Regions from separate parts of the Homo sapiens genome. Here region 2 is linked to region 1. A link means that fine-mapping ties the variant in region 1 to the expression of a gene that starts in the linked region. Tissue or cell type: thyroid. Region 1 holds a variant in brackets; the other region holds the start of a gene. All regions are shown on one strand. Distances are from middle to middle.

Evidence for each region. PIP is the estimated chance that this variant, and not a neighbour inherited with it, causes the effect.
Region 2: it holds the start of ZNF23, and the variant in region 1 is fine-mapped to the expression of ZNF23 in thyroid (GTEx, PIP above 0.99).

The regions. Positions count from the first base shown.
Region 1 is chr16:71,396,822-71,399,504 of GRCh38, reverse strand. No RefSeq gene overlaps it. Among named protein-coding and RNA genes, the nearest start is that of LINC02136, 28 kb to the left of the region's middle. The variant T/C (reference allele first, on the strand shown) is at 1,319.
Region 2 is chr16:71,460,904-71,463,586 of GRCh38, reverse strand. It overlaps ZNF23 (zinc finger protein 23), which reads left to right and starts at 1,340. Exons shown (of 5, transcript NM_001381984.1): 1 at 1,340-1,377. LOC124903709 (a long non-coding RNA gene) reads right to left here and starts at 1,275. Exons shown (of 2, transcript XR_007065105.1): 1 at 295-1,275. RefSeq lists enhancers at 1,222-1,381, 1,652-1,741.

The DNA of each region.
Region 1 (2,683 bases):
AGATTAGCCAGGCATGATGGCGGGCGCCTGTAACCCAGCTACTCGGGAGGCTGGGGCAGAGAGTGGTGTGAACCCAGGAGGCGGAGCTTGCAGTGAGCCGAGATCGCACCACTGCACTCCAGCCTGGGCGACAGAGACAGACTCCATCTCAAAAAAAAAAAAAAAAACCACAGCTATGAAGTCTCTGTCATCTACAGATAGTGTTTGCTTTTCTCTGATGCTTGCTTGAAGGTTCTCCTCTAAGCTACAGGCTGCAGTTGGTGTCATCAACGAAAAAGAACAGTTTTAGAGCCTGGTGGTAAATGACTGGACCAGATACTTCCAACTGTCTGCATTTTATAGACTCGTGAGCAAGGCATCTGAACTGATATCACTTAAGCAGCTCTCAGATTGTAACAGTGGACTGAATCAGGATTTCTAGGACTCTTTTTTTTTTTTTTTTGACAATGATGTCGTTTATTTAAAATGTTTACTCCAAGAAATATATATAATAAGACAATTACAGCACTAAACCAGGCACCTTCGACCAAATCACAACCTCCTGTTTGATTCCCCTTCATGCTAAGCCTCTTTCAAATTCTTTTTCCTGAGCTGGAAGACCAGTTGGATGCCCACAGGGTCAGCGCCAAGCACATTCCCAGCTGGGCAACTGTGTACCTTTCTCTAGGAGTGCACGACACCCTTCCCCCACAACTCCTTGTTTTAAAGGATTTAACCCATTAGGAAGCCCATTTTTCAATCTAAGCCAGAAGGAGGTGCAGGACAAGGCAGTCTTCACTTTGAAGGTCCCTTTCCTGCTCCAGTCCCTGGGCTGGGGTTCTAGAAGAGGCTGGCTGCTGGGTTTACATGAGGCCACCGAAGATCTAAGTTCTAGGACTCTTTTTTAATCCACAAGCAGACGACTTCATGAAAGCAGAGAATGCGGATCCAAGATCCAGTGGAACAAGAATTTATTTCATGGGACTGCATGAGGTGCTGTGGGAATTTCATCATAGTTATTTCTTTAAACTCTTGTTAATGTTGTTTCAATGTTCTATTTTCAGGCTCTAAGAGGAAACCTTTTCTCTTCTTTGGCTCTCTGTAACCCACCACAATTTAGTGGACTCTGCTTTTATATACTGCAATACAGCATTTTAAAATGAGACTTGGCTCTGGCTGGTATGCAGGGGTACCTCATTGCGGTTTTAATTTGCATTTCCCTAATGGCTGTTGATGTTCATCATATTTTATGTGTTTGTTTGCCACTCATGTATCTTCTTCATCAAAGGGTTAGGAAGTAAGATTCTTTTTTTTTTTTTTTTTTTTTGAGACAGAGTCT[T/C]GCTCTATTGCCTAGGCTGGAGCGCAGTGGTGTGATGTTGGCTCGCTGCAGCCTCCACCTCCCAGGCTCAAGTGATCCTCCTGTTTCAGCCTCCTGAATAGCTGGGACTACGGGCACGAGCCACCACACCCGGCTAATTTTTTGTATTTTTAGTAGAGAGAGGATTTCGCCATGTTGGCCAGGCTGGTCTCGAACTCCTGACCTCGGGTTATCCACGCCTTGGACTCCCAAAGTGCTGGGATTACAGGCGTGAGCCACCGTGCACGGCTTAGGAAGTAAGATTCTGAAGGGCACTTTGATGCCATCTGTTCCAAGCTCCCCATTCTACAGATGGGGGACTTGAGATCCAAAATGAGATGTCTGGCCATTTTCCCACAGCCAACTGTGGTCTCTGAGTGGAAACCAAGGACAGATGTGGGGAGGACGGAGCACATTGAGCCAGGCCTCTGGGCAGTCTCTGGAGCCCCCGTCTCTTCGGCTTTTCTTCTGCCTCACTGTGGGATTGGTATGTGCAGGTCAGCTCAGCACAGCTGCTCCCTTGGCATACAGTTCGGAGGATTCACACCTGCTAAGCAGGAAAGAGTGTACCTAGTAGGCACCTTGTCTAAGGACTTCCAAACATGGAAGTACCTGAGTTCCTGTGAGCCCTGGGGCAGCTGCAGAACATACACCCAGAAGTAGAGGCAGCATCTTCTGATCCGGAGGTCAGAAGTCCAAACTGGATCTCACTTGGCTAAAATCAAGGTCTTGGCAGGGCTGTGTTCCCTCTGGCGGCTCCAGAGGAGGATCTCTTTCCCTGCCTTTTCCAGCTTCTAGACGCCACCTCTTCCATCTTCAAAGCCTGTTATGGCCGGTGGAGGATTTCTTCCATTGCGTCACTCTGACCCTGACAATTCTGCCTCCCTCCCTCACACAGAAGGGCCCCTGTGGTTACATTGGCCCACCCAAACAAGCCAGGATATCCCCCTATTTTATGGTCATCTGATTAGCAACCTTAATTCCCTTCTGCCACGTGAGATCATGTATTCACCATGCCCCAGGATTAGGACACGGACAGCTTTGGTGGGGATTATTCAGCCCTCCACAGCTTGCTTGGCCCCTGAGACTTGATTGTTCTGGAGAGGAGAGGGGTACTCGGTGAGGGGGAGCCCTGAAAGGGGCAGGTACCCCTAGGTGTGTGGGTTCAGTGGATGTAGGCAGGAAGAGCAATACATGAGTCAGCCACCCTTGTGGGCTTCTACTGGGGGAGCCGCCAAAACCTGTCTCACATGGTCAACGTCCTGTGGAGAAAAATATGGCCGGGGAGGTTGTAGAGTGTAGGGTGGTGGAAGGCTGCGGCCTAATCGGGTTTCAGTGAGAGAGGTG
Region 2 (2,683 bases), 64 kb before region 1:
CACCAGAGAAGACAGACATATAAATAAACTATCACCATTAAGTAAGTACACAGTGCTGTGATGGCACATAAATGAGTGTCCTGCCTTATTCTGGGTGATGAGGGAAGGCTTGCTTCCCATGCAAAATGGGATTTGAGCTCACACTTCCAGTAACAGTCAAGATGGAGGGTAGGAATGGGAAGGGAAGGGCATTCTAGATTTAGAGAACAGCATTTTTAGCATGTAGGGCTGAGGTAGAGTCAGGGAATGAATGGGAGTGATAAGAAGCCACAGAGGCAAGTGGGAGCCAAATACCAGTCTCCAGTGCAGCAGCGTTGGATGGATCAGAGCTGGAAGGAAGAAAAGCCCACATTACCAGGGTTAGGGGGTGTGTGAGGGGGTGGGGATTTTAAGGGTCGTCCAATCCAGTGGCATTTAGTACTGTCTCCCTTCCCCCAGGGCTCATTTTGGAATTTTATGGTAGGTATTTTGTTATATTTGGTGTCAGTGGTAACATTGCTACTAGCGTTGTGGATAGGAGCCAGGATCCTGCAATGTACAGGACAGTCCTGCCCACTGAAAAAATGTTCACACTTTCAAATGTCTTGCTGAACATTCAGGTAGGTGAAAATTCTATTTCTAAATTATCTGAATCTAAACCTGTTTTCTGGATAAACATGTATTTTTGCACAGTTTTAACATACACTGATCTTCCAGGAATGTAATTATTGTATAATCAAGAGACGATTGTCCTGTGTTTCATTCAGAACTTCACGAAAACATGTTTGCCATTTTGGATCATAATTTTGTGACTTTTGCAACAATGTAAGTCACAGCTTTGTGGCTGTGGCACTCAGACAACGTCTATGTGTAAAGGCGACCACCTTATTAGGTCTCCTGCAGCAGCCAAGACCAAACACATTGAAGTATGTGTTTTTAAACGACAGATGACGGTCCTCTTTTTTTTCTCTTTCATTACACTTAAGGCATAACATTAGTTTTTAATATGTAGGTGTGTATGTTATGTATGATTTTCTAGGCCATTATATATGAATATCAGGTCAGGAGAATAAGATGGACATTACAAACTATTTGTTAGAAAAAGGGGGCATTGGGTGTGACAGCGCGCCATCCACTGGTCCATTTCCAAGACTCCCACACGTGGCTGCACCTGCAGCTTCACCTCCCCGGGCTGGGTCCCCGCTTGGCTCTGATTCTTACCTGCCCCATTCCCCAGGGGTAACAGTCACCGTGGGCCAGACCCGAGCTAGCCGACAGGGATGCGGCCACAGCTGGCCGGGCGTGACCACCACCGAGGCGCAGCGACCTTGCTCCTAGAGAGGCCCGGCCGCCTGGTGACGCACTTCCGGCAGCGCCGGGGAGCAGTCCGCTACGGAGGTGAGTGCAGGGCTCCGGGCGCTGTGTGCCGTGCCCTGTCCCCCAGGCTCTGGGTCCGGTTGAGACGCACTCCCACCCTGGGTGCTGCAGGGTCTCCCGTGGCCTACGCTGCCAGGAGGCCCAGGCTGGGAGAGGGAGCAGGGCGGCGGCCCGGGGTGCTCTTCCGCGCTCCTCGACTCCAGCTTTGGTCTTTGTGGCTCAATAGCTTGCGCCCATTGGAAGGGGAAACGCACGTTGCTGTCCCAGCCACGAGGCCCTGAGCATTTAGCACTTGGTCGACGGGGGAAGATGTGTCGGTGCAGCTAAAAGATGGAATATTTGCGGGCGTGAAGCGGCCCGAGGTGATACCACAAGTCTTTTGACATGCTGAGGTCTGGCAGGAACATTAACCTATGTGCATCCCGAGTATGGACCGTGTGCTCCCAGGCTCCTGACATAGGGTCATGAATTAGGGCCGAGTGGGAGCGCAGAGCCCCTCCCAGTCACCCGGCAGCAGAAGCAGCCCGGCTTTTGGAGGACATTGTCTCCTGGAGCAGTGTCAGTCCCAAAAGGTAACTCAGCCCTGCTTCTCTCGGCTCAGGGTTGACAGTGACCTGGGAATGACTTCTACAACGTAATTACGAATTCACTCAGTTTTAGAATATATTTAGTAGTCTCAGAATCGCTAATTCATACCCCCATGAAAAGCAAATTTACTACCTAAAGTACAGTACTTGGATACAGGTCTTTTTGTCTTTACTCTTATGGTATTTAGTCAAAATACTGTTTTCCAAAGTTGCTTACCCCTTTTCTTTCCTACCACTTAAGTGTGGTTATGTTCACTGTAGTATAGTTAAGCACATTGGCTGTTCTTTGTATTACATTTTGGGTCCTCAATTTCACCCCATCCTTGCTGGTTTATATATTTATTTAAAATATATATTTATATGTTACATATATAGTAGTAAACATCCATGAACACACCACCCAATTAAGAAAGAGAAGATTGCCAGTACTGCTGAATTTATCAATGTGTTCCTCCTCCTCAACCCAACTCCCAGCCTCCAACCCCTAGAGGTAACAGTTATATTGACTTTTGTGTTAATTGTAGCCCTGTTATTTTAAAAAATAATTACATATGCATGTATCTGTAAGCAATGTACTTAAATTTTTTTTTTGAGCTTCATATAAATGGCACCATTGTGTGTATAAGTCATCTGGGACTCGCATAATTCAATGTTAAGTTTCCAAATTCATTCTGTGTGTAGCTTCTGGGTAATGTTCCATTGTAAAAACTGTATGAAAATTTATCGATGTATTTTCAATG